Linked DNA regions of Homo sapiens: regions 2, 3 and 4 are each linked to region 1. Evidence: fine-mapped expression QTL. A gene starts in region 1. Each other region holds a variant in brackets. All regions are shown on one strand. Distances are from middle to middle.

Evidence for each region. PIP is the estimated chance that this variant, and not a neighbour inherited with it, causes the effect. A credible set is the group of variants that fine-mapping cannot tell apart.
Region 2: its variant is the best candidate, but not a certain one, in a credible set for the expression of PLCH2 in lung (TOPMed, PIP 0.88).
Region 3: its variant is the best candidate, but not a certain one, in a credible set for the expression of PLCH2 in whole blood (TOPMed, PIP 0.65).
Region 4: its variant is the best candidate, but not a certain one, in a credible set for the expression of PLCH2 in cerebellar hemisphere (GTEx, PIP 0.59).

The regions. Positions count from the first base shown.
Region 1 is chr1:2,473,655-2,479,326 of GRCh38, reverse strand. PLCH2 (phospholipase C eta 2) reads right to left here and starts at 3,038. Exons shown (of 22, transcript NM_014638.4): 1 at 2,615-3,038; 2 at 705-851. The coding sequence starts at 2,738.
Region 2 is chr1:2,430,555-2,436,226 of GRCh38, reverse strand. It overlaps a transcript of PLCH2 not described here. Among named protein-coding and RNA genes, the nearest start is that of PEX10, 21 kb to the right of the region's middle. The variant T/C (reference allele first, on the strand shown) is at 3,158.
Region 3 is chr1:2,500,616-2,506,287 of GRCh38, reverse strand. PLCH2 (phospholipase C eta 2) reads right to left here. Exons shown (of 22, transcript NM_014638.4): 21 at 3,879-4,176; 22 at 756-2,366. The coding sequence ends at 1,075. Among named protein-coding and RNA genes, the nearest start is that of PANK4, 23 kb to the left of the region's middle. The variant G/A (reference allele first, on the strand shown) is at 2,983.
Region 4 is chr1:2,509,444-2,515,115 of GRCh38, reverse strand. PANK4 (pantothenate kinase 4 (inactive)) reads left to right here. Exons shown (of 19, transcript NM_018216.4): 11 at 650-762; 12 at 1,027-1,114; 13 at 2,077-2,228; 14 at 3,433-3,488; 15 at 3,729-3,778; 16 at 4,334-4,438; 17 at 4,959-5,059; 18 at 5,186-5,254. Among named protein-coding and RNA genes, the nearest start is that of PANK4, 14 kb to the left of the region's middle. The variant C/T (reference allele first, on the strand shown) is at 2,900.

The DNA of each region.
Region 1 (5,672 bases):
GCTCAGGTGCATCGAGGCTCTTGTGACCTCAGGTCCCCCTGGGGGCTCCGCAGCGCGACTCTCTCCACGGGCCCAAAGTGGCTACACGCTTGGCAACTGCTGGGCTGAGGCCTTGCCTGGCATGCCTGGGTCCTGACCATCAGCAAAGCCATCAGAAACCCTGGCTGCGCCCTGATCCCAGCCCTTGAGGACTGCCATGTCTCTCCCCAAACCGTGGGACCCTACCCGTTCCCTGTGTGCCTCAACTCTCCCCACCCACCCCCTGCACAGAGCCTCCATCTCGGGTGGCCCCTGCTCCCTCCAGCAGCCATGCCCAGTGGCTGCCTGAGCCACTGTTTGCACCCATACCCATCCATCAGCATACCTCTGTGGGGGTCGTTTCTGTTTATGGGGAGCTGTGACCTCCCCAGCTAGATGGACTATGCTGTGCCCCTCCTTCCAGCCCAGCACTCAGCACAGGGCTGGGCACAGTGCTACTCGGTCCTCACTGAGTCCCAGGGAGCTCTGCCAGGCGGGCAGGGGGCCTGGATCCCTCCTACCCCACAGCCCGAGGTCACTGCAGATCCCCAAGGCCACTGAGCCCAGAGGTGTCCAGGCCTAGGGTCTCGCTGCTCCTCAGCCATCAGTGGCTGCCCTGGGAGGGTCCCTACCGTCGTGTCCCCCCAGGGACTCTGATTTGTCCCCACCCCAGGGCTCCCACTCACTCTTGGCCTTCTCGTTCTTGCGTGAGGGCCTCCAGCGGATGCAGGAGCGGTGCTCGTCCAGGTAGTAGAAGCGGACCAGGCCCTTGGAGCCGCCACGCAGCTTCACCATCTGCATCCCCTCTTGCATGGCACCCATGCACCGCTCCACTGGACACGGGAGAGACACGGCTGTCAGCGGAGGCACAGCCACTCCTCGCAGGAGAGACACGGCCGTCAGCGGAGGCACGGCCACTCCTCACGGGAGAAACACGGCCGTCAGCGGAGGCACGGCCACTCCTCACCTCGCCCGGCCCCGCCCACACCGCCCTGCCAGTGACAGGGCAAAGGCCAGAGCCCAGGGCCACCTCCACCCCAGGTGCCGGCTTGCCTGGGTCACACAGCTCAGCTGGGCCCTGCCACTCCTCCCCAGATGGTCCTGGGAACTGAGGGCCCTGCTCCCCACCCTGCTCGGCCACCTGCCACTCCCACCACCTCCTGGACCAGTCCTAGCAGCCCTGGTAACCGGCGCTGGGCCTGGGGCCCCGAGAGCTACCACTCAGACGGAGCCAGCACAGAACTCAACAATGGGAAGGCCGGGCACGAGGCAAGACAGATGAGGTGGCTGGGCTGGCTGTCTGGGGCCATAGTGCAGTGGAGGCCCCTTGTCAGGGGCGGGGTGGGCCTAGCAGGCAGCAACCCCATGCCCCTGCCCCCGCCCCTGGCCACAGGTGGCTCCTGGGAGCGGTCGAATTCCTGAGTGCCTGTGCCCCTGCCTGGGGCATCTCCAGGAAAGCCCCCACCCCTCATGTGCAACAAGCGCCACGAATGGTGCCATGAATGTCTGCGTCGCACGCCCTGCACTGCAGTATGGACTTGGGAGGCTGTGGTGCCGGATCCGAGCTTCACAACCCCTCCCCTCCCCTCCCCCAGGCTGCCTGCCTCGCTCCTTCTCTCCCCTCCTCTCTCCATTCAGCCTCCTGCTGTAGCTTGTCCCAGGAGAGGGGGCTGCAGGGTCCAGGGAGTCCAGGCCAGAGTCAGCTGTCCCAGCCCAGGAACAGACTGGTCTCACCCCCTCGGTTCCTGCACACCTGCTCACAGAAAGCCCGGGTCCCAGAGGTACCATCTGCTAAAGCACAGAGACGTTAATCCCCACCCCAGGTCTGCACGCTGAGGGACCCTGGCGGGGGCGTTGTAGAGGACCAAGGGCAGTACTGGCCGGGCCTTCTTGGGGAAGCTACTACGTGATCACGAGCAGAGGGGAATTGAAGGGATGGAAGCCATGGCATGGGGGGCTGGGCTCTCCGGGGCACATGGGAGGTGAAGACGCAGGTATGGCTGCAGGGATTTAGGAGAGGGGTGAGGCAGGACACAGGGGCAGGGGGCGGGCAGAGGCCTGCAACAGGGCAGCCTGGACAGGACCCTGTCTGCCGCTGGAACAGAGAGCTGGCAGGCCAGCCCGGACCGGGGCCCTCCACAGGCCACCACAAGACACACACTCCACCCTCCCAGCCATACCCAGCCAGTCTCCTCTGCAGAGTCTCCTAACGGCAAAGGCCCTCATGTCCGGCACCAGGATGCCAGCCCAGCCGCCTGGGCTGCAAGCACCACTGACCCCCAGAGCACAAGGCACCCCTTCAATGAGAGCATTGGAGCCACCTGAGATCCCCCCTCGCCCCCTTGGGTTCAGCCCCCAGGCCCTGCAGGTGCCTGGGAGACCGAGGTGTGCTGAGCACGCCTCTGAGCGGCTGAGGGGCAGGGCCAGCCGACGCTGCTGGACCCACATGATCCCTAGAGCACCCGGGGGACAGGGGAGGCGAGTGCAGGATGGGATGGAGGCCCAGGCTTCCCCCACCTCCAGGAACAGCCCCCACCCACCAGTCACCTGGCCAGGGCCAGCACTCAGCCCAGGCCACTCGCCTGCCCCTTCTTACCCAGGGGGCCGAGCTGCCACTCTGAAGACAGCACCACACTCCCTCCAACCCAGAGGAGTACCTCCGCCAGCCAGGCCACCGTTCCCTTGGTCCGGCTGTCGGGGGAGGGCCATGGACCAGACATGGCCTGACGACAGCCGGGCCTGCTTCACGGAGGCCACAGAGGCCCACCGGCCTTCGGGCAGCGGAGGTCAGGCAGTGGCAGCGCTGGCGACAGGACCTCCGTGGGGCCTTCTCTCCTCTGCCTCTTCCTCCTCCTCCTCAGGGCCCTCCGAAGCCCCCACAGGGCTGTGCCCAGGCCCGGCTGGCATTGGCCTGACCGTCACCTGCTGTCCTGATGGCCCCCAGGCCAGCCTATCCACCCTCCAGGGCCACCAAGGAATCCCTGACGCAGCCGCCTCCCAAGGCTGGGGGAGCAAAGGACCTCAGCCCCGCCCAGCCCCAGGCCCAATCCCTGTGCTAATCCCAGCTCCAGCCCAGCTGGTGGAGGATTTAGGCCGAGGGAACTCCCAGCTGGGGATGGGAGGGCACTGGGGAGGCAACAGAGTTTCCCAAGGCCCCAGGCCACCAGACCCAGGTCAGGGCTGCGGGACAAGAGCAGGACCAACGGGAGGGCCCTCCTGGGACCCAGAGAACGCAACCGGAAGGCCTGCAGGGTACTGTCCTCCGAGGACCCTGTGTGGGGTGGGCCTCCCCGCTGTGCGCCCACCACAGATGCCGAGGCTGGGCCTGGAGTGGTCCCTGCCCTCACCCCGCATCCCTACTTATGAGGACCTCTGAGTGGATCCCCAAAGTCCAGAGGCAGGTGGCCCAGAGCAGGGGCAGAAGCTCACCTCATCCCCGCAGCGCCCAGCCCCTGTGGCTGGAGAGGGGAGCCGAGCCGGATCCCTTACAGCGACAACTCCCAGCCCAGGCCCAGGATGTGGGTCCCTGAGCCTGGGTTGGGCTCTCCATGTCTCCCTCATGCAGCTGCAGCCCCAGCCTGACCTTTCTCCACGGTCACCGAGCTGTGGCGGAGGAGGTGGCCCCATGCCCAGGGCACGTTTGTCCCCACATTCTGCCCTGCAGGGATGACAGCCATCTGACCTGGACAGGGGCCTCGCCCAAGGAGGACCCACCCCACCGTCTCAGCTCCCACTGAGGAAAGGACTCCAGGTCCCACTGCCACCAGGACCACACAGCCCACCCTGTGTACTGGCCCCGCACTACAGGACAGCACAGGCTCTCCCATCCCCAAGTCCAGGCCGGGACACCAGGGGCAGCTGTGGGAATGGGAGGTGGGCAGACCCCGGCTGAACACCAGCCACCTGTGTCCTGGCCATGCCCATGCTTCGTGACCACACTGGGGAGAACCCCGCCCTTCTTCCCACCCACTGCCCAGGCTCTACTGGCTCCAGCAACAAGGACTGGAAGGTTCCGGGCAGCTGCTCGCCTCCCCCCATACCAGGGGAGGAGTTTGGCCTGCAGAGCCCAGGACAGGGAGGTGCCAGGGCTGGGCATCCTGGCAGAGCCCCGGGGCCAAGGTCAGGCGTGGGAGGTGGCAGTCCCTGAGGAGATGGCCATGCGTCTCCAGCTGACCACTGACAACCAGGGCCACACCCAGCCAGATCAGATGCAGTCAGCACAGAGCCAACCCAGGCCCCCACCAGGGGCCCCGTCACAGGCTCTGCTGCTCTCGGCGGAAGCAGGTCAGCAGGCGTTTCTGGGCTCTGCCGTGGAATTAGATTAGGGAGCCATGAGCTGCAGGGAGAGGAGAGGGGCTGGAGTCCCGGGCGTCCTCAGGAAGACAGGGCCTCGGGGAAGGCCACCGTGTAAGGGGCAGCGCAGGGGCCAGGAGGTGGCCTGAGGGCCTGGAGACAGACCAGACGGCCATAGCCCTGGCCCAGGGCCCCTGCCCACCTCATACTGGGCTGCTGCGGGCTTCCACTCTGACCCAGGGGGTCCAGTTCTCCTTCCTGCACCTCAGAGGCCTCCTGGCCTGGGACACACCTGCTGTTCCCTCACCCTGGGCCTGGCCCCAGCTGGGGGTGCTCCCGTCTCTCACCCATCCCTCCTTGAAGCTCCCCAAGGCTGGGCCTCTGCTCCCTCCCTCCCTCCCTTGAGCTCTCAGCCACTAGCTGATCCCCCATCAGCTGGGGTTAGGGCTTGGAGGCCGCCATCTGCCTGGGCAGGGGTTCTGAGAGGAGCCACACATAGAGTGCCTGGCCCCAGCCCCACAACGTGGGTCCCAGGCTCCTGCACCCCAGGCCCCCTGACCTCCTCAGCAGCAGAGCTGGAATCCTCAACTGTCCAGGCGGGTGGAGGCCTGGCTAATCCCTTCCTGACACAGGCCTCTGCCGGGGGCTGCCCTGCCTGCCCTGAGGTCCAAAGGGACCGCCCACTCCCCTCCAAAACTCAGGCAGACACAGAACCGCAGCTGCAGCGTGAAGCCGGGGGTGCCCCGGGCCAAGAGACGTGGCAGGGGCCCAGGCCCAGAGACTTAAGAACCCCTCCCCACGTGCTGCCTGTGAGCCGGCCCAGGGCCCAGCCCAGCCCCCACACAAGGTCACGGAGGGGGCTGCCCCACCCCCATGCCGGCAGGCGAGCCCAGCCCCACAGCCTGCACTGACGGGCCCTCATGCTCACCCTGCCTGCCCTGAGCCAGGGCCCGGCCATCCTGAAAGCCCACAGGGAGGCCGAAGAAGCCACGCTCTGCTCTGTGGTTCCACACAGGGGCCCAGCCCTCAGCCATGGTCCACACCCACCCCCAGGCCGCCTCGGCCCCTCCCGTGAGCCTGAGCCAGGACACCTGATGTGGGAGCTCAGGTGGGATTGTAGCAATGCACCTGGCTGTGGGCCCACACCAGAGGCCAGACTGGGAAGGGCCGGCAGTCCTGGTCGGGCAGATATAGGCTCCGTCGGGGAGAGGAGGGCCCTGGCTCACCTGCTGCTCCCCCAGGTCCCTGCACAGCACAGTGGGGCTCCCCAGTCCTCAGAGCACTGCCTGACCCCGGGACATCCCTGGGGCAGGGACCTCGAAGTCCTCCTCCCTGCTCTGTCCCTGTGAGGCCATGATCCA
Region 2 (5,672 bases), 43 kb after region 1:
GGAGGCAGGAAGGAAGGAGGGAGGAGGAAACAGAGGAAGGAAGGAGGGAGCAGGGAGGAAGGGAGGAGGGAGCAGGGAGGAAGGGATGAGGGAGCAGGGAGGAAGGGAGGAGGGGAGGAGGAAGGAAGAGAGGAGGGGAAGAGGGAGGAGAGAGGAAGGGAGGAGGGGAGGAAGGAGAGAGGAAGGGAGGAGGGGAGGAGGGAGGAGAGAGGAGGGAAGCGGGAGGAAGGGAGGAGGGGAGAAGGGAGGAGGGAAGAAGGGAGGAGGGAGGAGGAGAGGAGGGAGGAAGGGAGGAGGGGCCCTCACTCTTTTCCTGGCCAGAGGGAGAGAGATGATGAGAGCCCAAGTCTCAGCAGCAAATTCAGCCCCACACTGGACAGACCAGGTGTTCCCAGCTGAGCCCCCCAGGTGTGGGGGCTCACTCCAGACTGAGCTGAGCCTCCCATCGCAGGGGCTCTGGACCCCAGCTGCCCACAGTTCATCATCTTCTCCACCCTGGCTGTACTCCACAGCCATCAAAGGACCCTGGAAACCCAGTCTCCCCTCCTGGAGATCACAACAGGCCAGGCGTGCTGTGGGCTCTGAGAGCCGTGTCACGCTGCACTCGGGCCCTGCCAGCCAGCAACTATTCCCACCTCTGTCCTCCCCAGGGACCCCATTGAGGTCCCTGGCCCCTTCCCCAGTCCCTGCAAAGAGAGGCCCCTGCGCCTGCTATCCCCGCCTCACTAACACATGCCTCCAGCCTCCAGCCTCCAGCCTCCAGCCTCCAGCCATTTGGAACCTAAAACAGCTTTGCTGGTGCCCTCTGACTACCCAGGGTGGTGTGAGAGCGCTGGTCAGCCCAGAGCCCGGGGACCCCTGGGCGTGAGCCTCACTTCCCTATCCTCTCTGAGGAAACACCCCGAGCCCAGGTGCCCTCCCTGCAAGAGGCAGCAACCGGGCCCCACCCCCCACAGCCCCTGCCCGGCCTCTGGCCTGCTCACTGTCCGCAGGTGACAGGGGTTCCTGGAGGAAAGGTCCTCACCCCCGGGACCATCTTCCACATGCTCTCCTTCGTCCTGGTGAGCTCCACTCCTCCTCCCAGCAGAGCTCCTGGACTGCCCACTTCTCTGCAGCCCAGGCAGGACCATCCAGGTCAGTGCACCTGCCTCCTGCTGCTGACAAAGCCAAGTCCCTGCGCCCCGGTGTTCTGCCCGGCCTGCTGCATGCTGAGGCTCGCAGGCCACGGACTTCTCAGAACAAATCCCCCCTGAGAAGCCAGCTCTGGGCCACGGGGACACACTTCTAGGGGCCTGCCTTCCCGTGCGGGCTCAGCTCTCCTGGGCAGCCTGGGTACAGCATGGGCGCCCGAGGACATACGCAACCCACAGCTGATTCTGCCCGGGGGTGGTTTCCACGGGGAGCCTCGATTTCCAGGTGAAGCACATCATCAGTGCACGTGGCACCAGGGAGAGGAGCTTGCATGGCCCCAGAGTGGGGACACAACCGGCGAGGCTCTCCCCACTTTTAGTGCGGCTGGCAGCCCGGGCAGCCTGGGGCTCCTCTGCTGGCTGTGGGGGGAAGGGGGTTGCTGGAAGCCAGGCCCTTGCCACACTTGGCCCTTCCGGGACTGGAGGGTCCCACGGCCCAGTGTCCAGGGTTCTGCATCTCAAAGGAGAGTCAGGGCCCCCGAGGCCAGTGACAGAGCTTGTGCCGCCCGCACCTGGCGGCAGCTGCTTTGTCTACAAAGGCAGTGTTTAATTTTGCTTTCCACAACCAGACTGCATTCTGGATACAGCTGAGGAGACAGATAAGGAACCTGTGCGTGGGGGAAATACGCCCCTGCCAGAGGCCCTGTGGGTGCCCGGGAGAGAAGGGGCCCCACGGCACAAGGAGCTGGGGCCACCTTCCCAGGTTGTAAACGGCTGTGAAGGTGAGTCCGTGTGTCCTGCCTCCTTCTAGAAAAGCCTCTGACCTGGCTTCAGGCAGGGACTGACCTGGGGAAGGCGCGGTGCCCCCTGCCCAGGCGCGGCCCCCGCCGGCCCCTGGCACACCCAGCCACCTCCCTTGGTTGCTCAGTAAGAAGCTGAAGGTGGGAGCCTCAAAGAGCTCGGTGCACATACATCAAACGCCACCCAGGGAGACCCGCAGCCTCCAAGGAAACAACGGGAGACCCGCCACGAAGCCGGACGCGCGATGCCTGTGAAGGAACCTCCTGCGATGTTGATGGCAGCAGCTCGTCGAGTTTCCTGGGTGCCCGGGGAGACTGCACTGCTGCCCTTCGGAGCATGAGGCAGACACTCAAAGCCGGGCTCCAGGGGAAAATTCAAACGTTTGAAGGGACCAAACGGCCAACATCACCCGGGACCCCCAGTGTGGGCACATCCGTGGAGGGAGTCGATGGCTCTGAGGGGGTTTGGGGAGCCGGCAGGGGCTCTGCCTAACCCAGGCACCCAAAGCCACGAAGGAGCGGGGAGAGGTGGATGGCAATGGCTGGTCTGATTTTCTCCCTTGTCTTTTTCTGTATTTTCCAAAGCATCTCCTCTGAGTGAGTCTTGCTTTCATGATCAGGGAAAAAAGAAACATACAAGAGCCGCCAACATAAGAGCCGGTGTAGAGTCCGAAGGAAAACGCAGATCTGAGTGCACTTTGAAGTCAGAAAGCCCCCGGGGAGGCTCCTGCTGTGCGGACACACCGTTCCCACCTGTGCCAGCCTCAAGGCACCGAGACTGAGCCGCTCCAGCTCCAGCTCAGTGAGAATGGCGGGGACACATACTCCAGCAGCCCTGAACCCCAAGAGCCACAGCCTCCCGCTGGAGTACTCCAGGGGACAGGAGCACACCGGCCCGGATGGGCCTCAGCAGCCCCCGGCCAAGTAGGGCCATGCTGCCAGCCTCATCCACATGGAGATGCCAGGGAGGCCAGGCCACCAGCAGCCCCAGGTGCACATGCAGTCAGCCCCACAAAACCTGCCTGCCTCTGCTCCCAGCACCACCACCCACACCACAGCACACTGGTCCTCCCCGGACACCTGAGCACGTACACAGCGGGGGCCGGGAGCCAATCTGGAAGGGGAAGAGTGGAAGGAGGACCCCCATTTACCTTTGCTGGCTCAGTATTAGGGGGCAGCCTGAAGAAGGCTCCCACCTCTGAGTTCAGTGGGGCCCCACATCCAAGC[T/C]GTTCGATCCTCCCAGAGGGAAACACGGCCCCAACCTCAGGGATGGGAGGGGGCAAAGGGTGGGCACTTGAAGCTCAGCCATGGGCACTGGTGGGTAACAGGCAGGCAGGGTGCCCAGGTTCTTCCACCCAGCCCGTGTGTGCACCGGGAAGAGAAGGGAGCACTGCCACAGACCCCTCCCCACCTGACGGACGGGAAAGACCTCCAGGCGCCTCCCAGGGGCAGCTCCTGTGACAGCCCCTCCGGACGGGGGAGTTGGGGACCCTCCCTGCTGTGGGAGGGCGGCGGTGTCCGTCCAGGCAAGCCTGCACGGCGGGCTCTGACCCTCCACCTCTGGCATCCGGCCCCAGGCACTGAGAGGCTCAGGGATCAGGAGTGAAGGCTCCCAGAGCCTGGAGAGTGCACTGTCTGGGCAGCTCAGACCCTCATCATGCCCAGCAGGGGCCCCCGGGCCCAGGGCGCTGAGTGTGGGGGCCGGGTGCACACCCCAGCCTGTGCCATGGGCCCGGCCACGTGCCCAGCAGTCATTTGCATTCTCCCCCACCCGTTAGCCCCAGGAGCTGGATCAAGCTGCTCTAAATGAAAGCCCGTTACCACGGATACACAAGAACTGGGGTAAGGCAAATTGCACAGGGGACGGGGTGTGCTGTCAGCCATGAGGGGCCAGCAGGGCAGGGGGCTGGCCCCAGTGCTGTCCCACGGCCCCCAACCTGGGCCCCCTGCTGTCCACCTGCCCCAGTCCCAGCCGGAGTGCTCAGTTATTCACCCCCAAGCTGCACTCCCAAGCGGACCTGACCCCCATCCCCATCACTGCCCACCGCTTCAGGGCTGAGGGTGTGAGCCAGGAAGATGAGAGAGTCGGCAGCCAGGTGCCAGCCCCAGCATTGTGGGGTCCTCACCGCCTCATCTGCAGAGTGGGGCCTGGCCTCACTGTGGGCAGCCATGGCCGTGAGTCCCAGAGGAGGCAGCACGAAGCTGACGCCTGGTAAATGCACGAGGCTCCATACAAGCCCCCCAGTCTGGGACCCCGAAACCCAACAGGCAGAGCCGAGCCTGTCCTGGAGCAGGCCAGAGGCCCACACCACCCGGGGCACCTTGCCAACCACCACCCTAATGTGCACAGGTAACTGAGCTGGCATCAGTGGGGGCAGGCACCGACTCAAAGGAAAGGGACACGATTCCGGCTCAACCAAGAAGGAGCCTCCCAGAAAGGCCCCCAGGATGAGGGTAGGCCCAGCACCCAGCACAAGACTGCCCTCCCTCAGCATCCACCACCCAGGCATGGGGCGGGGACAGTAACAAGGGGTAGGAACGGAGAGGCAGGGACTGTGATGAGGGGCAGGGCCAGCAGCAGAAGGGTACACAGCAGGAGTCCTCTATCCTGGGAACCGTTGCCCCTGGACCTGATACTGTTTCTGCATATAGGACCGCTGGCTCCTCCCGCCCCCAGGCCCTGCCAGAGTTGGAAGCTCTCCAGGACTCTGGAAGCTCTGGAGAAGGGGGCGCAGCTTGCTCCCCTCCCCCATCTGGTCTCCCCTTTCCCCGGTGTCCATTCCAGACAGCGCTGAAAGCCAGGGCCCCAAGCCCGGCAGGGGCTGTGTGCAGCTCCCCAGGCGCAGCTCCACCCTCAGATGGCGAAGACCTGTCTGGGCATATCTGGAGAATGTGGCATTGACAAGCCGGAGCCACCTCTGTGAGGCACAGGCATGCACAGAGCATGAGCACACACACACACACACGCACTTGGGCACACACCATGTAGGCACAGGTGCAGACCCTCACGAGTGCAGGCAGACACACGCACACACGCACACACGCTCACCACTGCCATGGTTCTTGCCTGGGAGCGGCCGCCCAGAGAGCAGCAGGGGCCCCCAGGGGGAGCAGAAGCGGCAGATAGCGGTGTGCACACACACACACACGCACACGCACACGCAGGGCAGCCAGCCACAGGCCTGCCACTCCAGGGCATCCCAGCAGAAGCTCAGGAGCTCAGGGGACCAGCTCCACACCCCAAAGTCTCCACACTAGACCCCAGAGCTGTCCGCCACATCGGGAGGCCTTCGCCCTTCTGACAGTGACAACACGACCAAGAAGGAAGCATCGTGAGCTGCAGGGGCACCTCTCCCAGACCCCCCCAGTGCAGCAGGTGGGCAGAGAGCCATCCCCCAAGAATGAACCCACCCCCTCTCTGCCCACACGAAGGGACACACACTGAGAGCTCTTGAATTGCACGCCAGGCTCCTCTGCACGTGGCGGCCCCACCTGCCCTGGGGTGCTAGCAGAGCCCCAGTTCTCCCCAGGTGACATCACGGGACATCAGGGTCACTGAACTGAACCCTGAACCGTATTGTCCCTGGGCTCCAGGAAACAGAGACGCACTCAGCAGGAGAAGAACAATGTTCTCTGGCTTGGTGTGGGTAGCCAGGGCCTCACTCACCCACGGGCAGAATGTTGGCGCTCAAGAAAAGCCACCTGCTCTCCGGATCCGGCCCTGGGTCCTCAGGCGGAAGAG
Region 3 (5,672 bases), 27 kb before region 1:
AAGGGCCCTGCCTGGGCACAACGCAGCCAGGGGTGAGACGGGATACCCCGACAGAGCAGTGCTCATCCGGGTGGTGCGCCGGGCAGGCCCCTTGGGCAGCCGCAGGTGACAGAGCCTCATGGGGCAGGACATCCCCTGACTCCCCTGGCCACAGGGTGGGCCACACCCACTCCCACTGTTGGGGCAGCAGAGGACGGGCTGCAGCACAGGCTTCCAGAGGCCCGACCAGCACCCCAGCTTCTCTAGGGTAGGGGCCTTTCTGGAACCACCATGCTCTGCAGGCAGAGCAGTCCCCCGGGTTGGGGGGCCTGTGGCCCGGGGTTAGGGCCTGCGTCCTGAGGAGCAGGCTTTGCAGCCTACCCTGGGAGCCTGTCCAGCTCAGCCCTCTGAGGACAGGCCAGGTCTTTTCTTGGGGTGTCTTCTGGGCCTGGCGCAGGCTCCGACGGGCACCTGGTAAGTAAGTGGCACAGGAGGCTGAGCGAACGGGAAGCCCATGCGTGCTGGTGAGCACGTTTATCAGAACCACGTTTGGGAGTTGACAGAGGCTTAGGCATGGTGCAGAGGGTGGCGTGGTCGGTGCAAGGCAGATACAGGCTTCAGGGCAAGGCCCAGACGGCCGTCCTGAGCAGCCCTGGTGCCTCACAAGCACCCCCGCCTGTGCCGTGGCCAGGTCAGCCGCGCCTCCCGGGGCAGGCTCAGGACAGGTGCGCACAGATGCACACCACACACACCTGGGGTGAAAAACCAGGTAAAAATGGAAAGGGACTTGGTATCATTTTAATGTTGTATAAGTTTTGCTTCTAAAAATTTAAATATTTCTCTATGTACAGATCCTAAAACGCCGGGAAAACTGCCTGGCAGGGCCAGCCTCGAAGCCCCTCCTGTGGGCCCCGGGCCAGCAGCTTTAGCCTTTCCTCCCCGGGAGCAGGGGCAGGAGGGAGGCAGGGGTGGAGGGGACACAGGGCAGCCAGGGGGACACAGTTTTGGGGGCCTGGCTGCCCTGTTTCCTGAGCAAACAACACGCCCACCCCTGCCCTGGGCCTCCAGAGCCGCCCAGGTTCCCACCACTGACGGTCAGAGGCGGAGCAGGACCAGGTTTTCAGCAGCCGCGGATGCTGGCCCGAGGGCTCCCTTGGAGGGTGCTGGTGCATCCACACTGCCCTCGTGGCCCACGGAGCAGGCGCCCTCGGGGGTGCCCCGCTCCTCTTCTGGGGGTCCCTGCCGGCCCAGGCCCTGCAGTCTCTGCTGCCGCTCCTGGGCCTGGCGGGCCCGGCTGGCAATGGCACGCACGCGGCTGTGGCTGCGGGAGGAGGAGCGCCGCACAAAACCAGGGCCCCCTGCCACCCCCTCCCCAGCCGGGCCCAGGCTGGTGGGTGACGTGATGTCTCCTGCCTGCTGGAAGACAGTGAGCCAGCGCAGCTGCTCTGTCAGGGTGTCCCGTCTCACCCCTGGCCCCGACACCCGCCGTGTCCCTCCCGGGAGGCCCAGGCTGTGGCTCAGTCTGCGGGAGCCGCCCTCAAAGCTAGGGGCAAAGTCATCAGCAGTGAGGTCGCCCAGGCTCTTGGACTTGGCAGCCACGGGGCAGTCCTGCACGCCCACCAGGGAAAGGCAGCCCCAGGGAGGCCGGAAGGGGAGGCCAGCCATCCTTGGGGCCAGGGACCTGGGCTGCAGTTCGTCAGGTATGGGAGGCCGCTGGCCTGTAGCCCGAAGGTTGGGGTTGGATTTGCTCTTGGTCACAGGTGGCAGGTCTGGGCGGGCAGCCGAAGCCGAGTGGGGCCTGGGGGGCAGGCGTCCCATGTGGGCTCCAGCGAGGTTCTCACGGCTGCGGCCCAGGCCCAGGCTGGGCAGGGAGAGGTCAATGACAGTGTCGCTGGATGACATGCTGGAGGAGGAGGAAACGCTGTCTCGGTGGCCACATGGCTCCAGCCGCTGCCACAGCGGGTCACTGCCCGTGGCATCGGAGTACACGGCAGGAGCTGGAAAGGGAGCGGCCAGGGGCCGCCACCCTCCCAGGGGCTCCGTGGGCACCTGCCCCTCACTCTTCACCCTTCTAATCACGGGCAGGTGGCCCAGGGTCCGGGGCTGGCTCCTGCCGTCCGTCTGGCTGCCGGGGGCCCTCTCGTATGCCCCGCCGGCGCCCTCGCCGTTGCACGGCCGAGGCCTGCTGTCTCGGGGCTCCTCAGTGTCCTCTAGGGGGCTTGCCACATTGGCTCCGGGTCCTGTGGGGTATGGGGGCCGTCCCTGAGAAGAGCTGGTGGGGACAGCCGCTGGTGGCGGGGGACCAGGGCCTGGGGCGGGCTCCTCAGCGATGGTTTCCAGGCTGCACAGTGGGGGGAGTGGCCGCTGCGTGGAGAGGGGGCGGGTGTCTGTGGGGAGGTGGGGGAGTGAGAGAGAGCCAGAGGGAGAAGCAGAAGAGAGAGAGGGAGGCAGGGAGAGAGGCGGAGAGGAGTCGGATCAGGGTGGTGTCCCCGGTGCCCTGTGCCGAGGGTCGCCAGGCCCAGCTCCCACCCCGAGGCATCCCCCGGGCGCGGCACACTCGGTGTCCCCACCCTGCTGCTGCTGGGGCCCAGTCCACGCCCTGTGCCGCACACGGGGCCCTCCTTGGGCTGGGACAGCACGGGACACCGGGGCTGGGCCCCGTTACCTGTCACTCGCCGCTCTCAGTTCCTAACTACGGAGGCAGCGTGGGTGGGGGCAGAAAGGAAAGCTTGGTCAGGGGGGTCTGGAGGGGCAGGGTGGTGTGGGGCGGGCTCCGTGTATGTCCCTCCCTCCAGGCTAAGGAGACACCCTTCTAGTGGGGTGCTTCAGCCCAAAGCAGCGAAGCCCTGGGGCCCAGGGAATCTACTCCACGCAGCACTCAGCAGGCTCCAGGCGTCCCAGGGGCGCAGGAGACGCCCAGCAGCTGCACTACCTGCCCACATCAGACTTCCCAGTAGGGACCCCTGGAGCCTGCCCTAGAGGGAGGTGGGAATGGGATGGTAC[G/A]TGGCCCCCAGTCCCAGGAAAGGCATCAGGGGCCATGCAGGTCGCCAGCCGCCCAGGAGGTGAGTTTGGGGAAGCGCCCAGCCGGAGGGGCCCAGCATGTCAGGCCACAGTCCCGGCCCCAGACCCTCAGCAAGAGCAGCTGGTTCTTCCCAGCCTGTCGGGCCTCAAACCAGCTCCACCCAAGTCCCAGGGCCTCAAGCTCAGACAGGAGGGCTGGGGCTATGGGCCACAGGCAAGCCAAGGGAGCAGAGTGCCACGGAGACAGTGCCACGGATACAGAGCCACGAGCACGAGCACACGAGGCGACACCGTCCACGCAGAAGCAGCAGCAGGTGACCCAGGCCCAGCCATGCCAGGGGCGTGCGGGAGGACCACGCAGGGCAAGAGGGGCTTACCGGCGGAGAACATGGGGGATTTACTCCTGATCTCCTCCAGCTTTTGAGCAAACAAGGCACTCATCTCTCCCTGCAGGGCCCCCGGTTGCCTGCAGGCACCCTCAGGCCAGCGGGGGGACCTTTCGGGGATGCCCGGGCTGTCTGGGCTGCTGGAGTCCGAGGACATGGAGCCGCTACCGCCTGGACCCTGCCTCCAGGCCCCAGGACCCTTGGGGGCCTCTCTGCTTCTCCCCGGGATAGCGTGAGGGTCCAGGCCACAGCAGGGGGCCCCCAGTGAGTCAGCCCGGGCCCGGGGCTGCTGGCGAATGGCTGCCTGCCTGCTTGCAGGCCCCGGGCTGGGTGGCCGCTCCCTCTGCAGGCCCCCGGTGTTCACGCCGGCGCAGGATCCCACCACACACTTCATGCATGTGGCGGCCATCCCAGCAGGCCCGGGGCCGTCCAGGACACGCGGGGGCCGCACTCGCACAGGGCTCTTCTCTGCCACCGCAGCTGGCGCCTTACCTCGGGGGCTGCCGCTGCCGGGCCCCTCCTGGGCTGGGGCTTCCGGAGCAGGTCCGGGCCCGGGGGGCACCACATCGTCTGCCACCCCCTTGGAGCCTGTGTCCCGTGTACCCAGGACCAGCTCCGGGAAGCCCCTGCGGCCCGGCTTCTGGCTCTTGGTCGGGGCGCTGGCCGTGCGCCGCAGGATCCGCTGGCTAACGGAGGGCCGGGCCGGGGGCCGCCCAGCAGCATGACTGTCCAGCGAGCCGGGCTTTGGGCCTCGGAGGAAGAGGCCTTTTAGGCCCAGAGCCTGCTTGACCTGCAAGAGAAGGAGCCCATGTAGCTGTTGCCAGGGGTCCCAGCCCAGCTGCAGCTGCTCCCCCAGGGCCAGCTCTCCAGACCGTGCCACAGACGTGCCATGCGTGTCTCGGTCCGAGGGGCTGGGCCACCTCAGGCTGGGGGTGTGTGGACACACCAGGGCCTTCAGGAGCAGGGTCCCTAGGGCAGCTCTGCCTGGGACAGTAGCTGCTACAGATCTAAGTACACATGGCCCACCCCACCCTTCCGGCAGAAACTGCCCTCGCCTGACCTGTCCAGGGCATGTGGGGCCCTTGAGGGGCATGGAGAGAAGGTCTTTCCCTCCGGAGGAGAGACCTCGAGCCCCAGCCTGGCCCACCACAGCCTGCACCTGCTCAGAGGCCCGCAGCCCCCGGCGCTAGCAGGGGACACTGGCGTGGCACTCCCTGGTTGTGTGTGCCCCACCCTCAGGCAGGAGTAGCTGGTCCACAGCAGGAGTAGCCAGGTGCAGCGGGAGGCCCACTTGCCCGGCCCGTGTCCTGCCCACTCCCATGGTGATACTCGTGCCCTAGGAAGTACCACCTCTTCCAGGAAGCCTTCCTGAATTCCCCCAGGCAGCCTTTTCTGGTCTTGCCCTGCCCTCCACTCATGTGAGCCCCCAAGGCCCGCAGCTGGCTTGCTGCCCCCTGAGCCCTGCCAAGATGGGCTCAGACTCCCAGCCCACCAGCACCTGGCCACAGCCAATCTTCCTGGACAGCTGGGCCCAGGAGGTCCCTGCCTGGGCAGAACAGCTGCTGAGAGGGAGGCAGCCGCATCTCCAGGGCGCAGAGGCCAGAGGGGCCCTCACATGCCAGATGCCCCCGAGACAGCACCCACCGCGCCCCCATGACGAGCCGTGCTCGTGCACAGAGCGGCCCAGGCCCGGCAGGTGGGTCACCCCCCTGCAGGGGCGCCTCTGGGCAGATGCGTTCAGATGGCCAGCACTTGAATCAGCTTCCTGATTCAAGATCCCAAATCTACGCATTTGGTCACAGTGGCTGGGAAGCCATTTAGAAGCAGATCCGGGATTCTGGCTCGGAGCGCCGGCCTCAGGGGTGCCCTCATCCCATGCACTGGCATGGTTGGCAAGGACAGGGAGGGAGTGGGAGGCGAACTCAGAACCAACAGCCTGAGGGTCCGAGATGGGGGCAGGAGAGAGAAGGAGGGGGATAGGAGGGGCACAGTGGGGGCTCCAGCGGGCTGCCCGCCAGGGAAGGGGCTGAGGGAGGGGAGGGAGGACTGAGGGAGGGGAGGGAGGACTGAGGGAGGGGAGGGAGGACTGAGGGAGGGGAGGGAGGACTGAGGGAGGGGAGGGGAGGAGAGGCCAGTGAGAAGGCGGCCACCCAGCTGAACCCTGGATCTGCCTCGTAAATGCCACTATGGCTGGGGATGGCCAGGGCCCCCGGAGCCATGTCATGATCCACGTCACATGAGCGACAGTCTCCAAATGCTACCAGGAATCATGGATGCTAATGGGGT
Region 4 (5,672 bases), 36 kb before region 1:
TGCCAGGCCCTGGGCCACGCTGCCCCTCAGGAGCTCAGCTCGGGGCCAGGGAGCCCCGGTAGCAACACGCACTCTTCACGAAGCCCTCGGAGAGGCCGGGTCGTGCCAGGGTTTGTCCTGAGGGAGGAGTCCCAGCCCTGCCCAGGACCCGGAGTGAGCTCTGAGTGCCCAGAGCCCCTCGTCCCCGGCACAGGATGGGGGCTCGAGTCTGAGGACGTGGGTCTTGGCCTCGGGTTTCCTGGGGGGTGAGGGACCAAGGTCACTCCTGCTCCTGCCTCCCAGGGCAACTGGGAGGGGCGAATGGCAAAGGGAAGCCTCGGGTGACCGTGAACTGTCACCGTCAGCCTTTCCTGTTCCAGTAGAAACTGCCCTGACCACAGCCCAGGCAGCCCCCACCCTGCCCGAGTCCCCCACAGCAGGCCCTGACCCTGCCCCGGGAAGCCCCCCATAGCTAGCCCCCACCCTGCCCCAAACAGCCCCCGACAGCCGGCTCCCACCCTGCACCAGGCCTCCTACAGCCGCCCCCACCCTGCCCCAGACAGTCCCCCACGGCCGACCCCCACCCTTCCCCGAGCCCCCTGCTGTCACGTGGGGATTCGCAAGCAGCAGGGCCAGCGCTTGACTAACCCCCTCCTTCTGTCGCTGGCAGGTAGTGAAGCGCGCAGTGGCGAGCCAGCCAGACTCTGTGGATGCAGCCGAGAGGGCGGAGAAGTTCCGGCAGAAGTACTGGAACAAGCTTCAGACCCTGAGGCAGCAGCCCTTGTAAGTGCCCAGCACCCCGGTGTGTGGCCACCTCTTCCATCCAGAGGGCCCCTGCACCTCTGAGAAAGTGCCGTGATGTTGGCATTCGGACCCCAGCTCGCTGGGGGTGGGTGTGGGCCCTGGCGGCACAGCCCCCTTGGACCCCGCCTCAAGCAGCGTTTGCACTGCCGGGCTCCTGAGGACGTCCGTGGCACAGCCGAGGATGGCAGACGGGCGGGTGTTCGGCCTGCCCTGCTCAGCGCCCTCTGCCGTGTCTGTCCCCAGCGCCTATGGGACCCTGACCGTGCGCAGCCTGCTGGACACCAGGGAGCACTGTCTGAACGAGTTCAACTTCCCGGATCCCTACTCCAAAGTAAGTGCAGTGTGCCCTGGCCTTCCGCTCGCTCTTGTCCCCGTCCCGCTGGCACCGCGTGTCCTGTCTCTGTCCCGCTGGCTCGGGGCATCCTGTCCTGTCTGAGGCCATGCAGGTTTGGTAGCGGCCCCAACTCCAGCCCTGGCACCACAATAGCCAGGGCCTCTGTTGGCAGCATCTGCTGAGGAGCTGTGTTACCCCCACAGATGCTGGGGCCACTTAGGGGTGGGGACTGCTGTGACTAGAGAAGAAGGGTGTGAACCCCAGTTTGGATGTGTTCCTGACAGACACAGGCTGCCTGCCTGCAGGAGCCAAGGGCCTCCCAGCTTCTGTGAGGGTGGGCGATTGTGGTTGGGGACTGCTTTCCCCTCATGGGGAGGGGCTGGAACCCTGGACCACCCTGGCTCCCTCCTAGGAGGCTGGACAGTGACCAGAGGCCTCCTATCCCGGCAACGTGCAGGGCCGTGCAAGGTGGGCCTTTCCGGGCGTCCGTTTTGCTTCCCCAAGTCTGGCGGCCAGAGCCCTCCTTGGCCCTTTCTGCCAGGAGGCAGCGGGCAGCAGCGGAGGCATGGACTCCTCCCACCTCTTCTGGGAAGGGCCAGCGCCATGCCTCCCTCCCCTCACACGCCGAGCCTTGTGACAGCGGAAGTCTGGGTGTCGAGGGTTTTGAGGCCAGGGCTGTGGGTACCTGTGGGGGCCGTGTCCTCCACTCTTGTCCTGCCCTTCACCCACTGCTCAGTCACATGGGGGCTGAAGTTGTCCTGGGCCTCGTCCTCAGAGCCCCGTGCAGCTGTGCGCTGGCCACTGTCCCGGACCGATAGGCTTGTGCCTGGTGGGGTCCCAGTTGGGCCTGAGTCTTCGATCCTGAGGGGCGTGGTATGGAACAGGCTGCGCCTGGCAGGTGTCCAGGGTGGGCTGAGGCCACGTCTTCACTCAGGCCTGGCATCTGGCACTCTCCACAGGTGAAGCAGCGGGAGAATGGCGTGGCGCTGAGGTGCTTCCCCGGGGTCGTGCGCTCCCTGGACGCGCTGGGCTGGGAGGAACGGCAGCTGGCGCTGGTGAAAGGCCTCCTGGCGGGGAATGTCTTCGACTGGGGGGCCAAAGCCGTGTCTGCGTAGGTGTCTGCGGGCTCGGAGCAGGCTCTGCAGCCTGTGGGTGCCTGTCCTGCCCCAGGCTTGCGGGCAAGGAGGTGGAGCGGGTCCCTTGGGGGTCACGTGGCGCTTGGTGGCTTGGTGGCTCAGGGCTTTGGGGCCCAGGGAGTGCACATGGCAGCAGCGCCAGGGGCTGGGCAGGGCGCAGCGCCCTTGTCTGTCCCCTCAGGTTCTGAGGAGGCCCCTTCCTTAAGCATGGGTGCCGCAGAGGCCTAAGGGTGTGGATTTGAAAATCGGGGCTGGCATTTTCTATTGTCAGAATCCAAATTCATGTTTCCTATGTGTGGTAGGAATTAAACATTTCTGATGTGATGATCAAAGGGTGCTTTGCAAAGCAGTCCCCTAGACTGGCCTGTAGGACACGCAGGTGTCTAGCACCTGGCGCCGTCTCCTGGGGCTCTGAATCTTGAAAATGAACCCCCCCACCATCATTTACCTTCACTCCCAAAGAAGCTGCTTCCAGTCTCTGGGCCTCCCCAGGCGGCCGCACCACCTCTCGTGGTCCCTGCTTTTTTTCATGTGGGGCTGGAGGGAAATGCCTGGGTTCTCAGCCCTCCCTGGGTCCCACTCGTGTCTCGAGACATAGATGAGAACGCCGCCTCCAACCATGGCTGCCCCTCTGGGACACAGGCCC[C/T]TCCCGCAGCCTGTCAGGAGCATTGGAGGAGGGTCCTGACCCATGGGATTGGCCTTGTGGCTGGGGGCTCCCCACACCGCCTGCATGGGTGCCAAGCACAGGGACCATACTGCGGCTGCCAGTCACCGAGAGGCTTCCCTGGCCCCGTGGCTCCGAGTCCACCTTGAGAAACAGCCTGTGCTCTCTCAGACCTTTGCTTGGTGGCCCCCTGAGCCTTCTGCGGATCGCAGCATGTTAAGAACGCTGTATCTGTTCTGCCTGGGAGTGATTTGGGGTCTTCACGTTGAGCAGCTGCCTCTGTCCCACCTGGGAGGGATTTGGGGTCTTAGCAGCTGCCTCTGTCCTGCCTGGGAGTGATTTGGGGTCTTCACGTTGAGCAGCTGCCCCTGTCCCACCTGGGAGGGATTTGGGATCTTTACATTGAGCAGCTGCCTCTGTCCCGCCTGGGAGGGATTTGGGGTCTTCACATTGAGCACTGTGGCTGAAGGTTTTTGTTCTGTTGTCTTAATTTTCTTTTCTCCTCCTCCATGCAGTGTCCTTGAATCCGACCCCTACTTTGGGTTTGAAGAAGCAAAGAGGAAGTTACAAGGTACGGATGGCCAAGTAACTTGGGGCCTTGCCTTGTGCTGGGGCCATGCCTGGACGTTCTCTGCAACAGCGAATGCAGTTGCGGTCGGGGTCCAGGCACCTCCCCTGCTCAAGGCTCTGTCAGCTGGGCTTCGGGGGCGGGGAGAACTTGCTTCCTGGAGAGACGAACACCTGAAGACGCGTCTCCCTGACCCCTGACCTGGAGCACCGGGCTAATCATGTGTCCCTCTCTCTGTCTCAGAAAGACCCTGGCTCGTGGATTCCTACAGCGAGTGGCTTCAGAGATTAAAGGTATGTGGAGGGGCCTCCCACCTCTGCTGCTGGGGACACAGCGGGGCCCGGGGGGGTGGTCACTGGAGGGAGGTGGGCATGGGCTGCCTCGGGTGGCCCTCCCCTCCTGTTAGAGTCTCACCATCCTGCGAGCCAAGGGTCTCAGCATCCCCTGCCCCACACTTGCCCTCCTGTCGTGACTGCTTCTTAGGTCACCTGCTCTAGGCACAAAGCCTTGCCAGAAGAGACAGGCACTGGCCCCTGCAGGCCAATCCGTCCCTGGCGCCTCTGGGGTCCTGAAGCCCCAGTCTCAGCCCCTGCAGGCTGGCCCGTCCCGGTGCCTCTGGGGTCCTGAAGTCCCGGTCTCAGCCCCTGCAGCCCAGCCCAGTCCCGGCACCTCTGGGGCCCTGAAGCCCCTGGTCTCGGCCCCTGCAGGACAGCCCATCCCTGGCATCTCTGGGGCCCTGAAGCCCCCAGTCTCGGCCCCTGCAGGGCAGCGTGACGGGCAGCAGGGGTGCGGACTGACTCGCTTGGATGCGCCTGTTCCCAACTGAACGTCCTGGTTTTGTCTTACAGGGGCCCCCTCATAAATGTGCCTTAATTTTCGCAGATAACAGTGGAATAGACATCATTTTGGGAGTCTTCCCCTTTGTCAGGGAGCTACTCCTTAGAGGGACAGAGGTGAGTGTTGAGGTGGTGGGTGGGGCCCTTCCCCTGGGCTTCTCTGCTCTCGGTGGGGTTGGCGCCGCTGTGGGCCTCTGGCGGTGGTCGGGGCTCCTCCGGACGCAGCAGGTAGGTGCAGGCAGCAGCACGGGGGAGGCGGCCCAGAGCCGTCATCTGCTGGGGTGGAGGCTCCGAGCCCCCTGGGCTCAGGCTGAGGGTCCATGTGCTGAAGCCCAGGGTTGACGCCAGGCTCCTGGAAGGGTGCTCACAGCAAGGAGGCTTTGGGGCTGTGACTTCACAGACAGGCAGGTCCCAGGGGCAGGCTCTAAACTCAGCTCTGCCCCTCGGCTCAGCTCCCTCCCAGGGGCCACAGAGTGGCAAGGTCAGGCGAGGTCCCTGCTCCTCAGCAGCAGGTGGCTGGCCAGGCCCGCTGGGCACAGCACCCTCACCCAGCCCAGCCACTCGAAGGCCGGGGTGCACGCAGGCTCCATGCTGGGCCAGCACAGGTTCCTAAAGAGCCTGGGCCCTCCTCCTGCAGGTCATCCTGGCGTGCAACTCAGGCCCCGCCCTGAACGACGTGACCCACAGCGAGTCCCTCATCGTGGCAGAGCGTATTGCGGGCATGGACCCTGTCGTGCAGTGAGTGTTGGCGGGCAGTGCTGGGGGGGCCTTGATGGGGAGGGGCACCAGCTGGGCAGAGTGGGCCATGGGGATTGTCACTGAACTGGGAGCTCCTGGGGGCACTGACCACCTTGTATCTGGCAGCTCTGCGCTCCAGGAAGAGAGGCTGCTGCTGGTGCAGACGGGCTCCAGCTCCCCGTGCCTCGACCTCAGGTAACCCCGCACCCTGCACCTGTTCTCTCCCTCCTGGGCTCTGTGCCCTCTGTGCCGTGCACCTGCACCCAGGTGCATGCGGGACACCGACCTCAGGACTGCCCCTGCGGCCTCTCCTGACCCCAGGCCCGGATTGATCTCAGGAGGGGACAGATATGCCATCCCCGAAGGTGGCCTGGGGAGGGTGAATGGATTCAGGGTCTGAGGTGGTTACACATGGGCTGGGTTTGGGGACTTGGGGCAAGAGGGGCCAATGTCCCTGTGGCCACTCAGCTGAGACCGAGGGCGACCTGGGCAGCTGCCCGGTGTCTGTCACCTCCGTGTCCCACATAGATGCCAGGCTCTGCTTCTGTGGTTCTGGAGGTCATTAGTCAATTGTATGTGGTGCTGTCTGTCCTCCTGATTGCAGAGGAGGAAG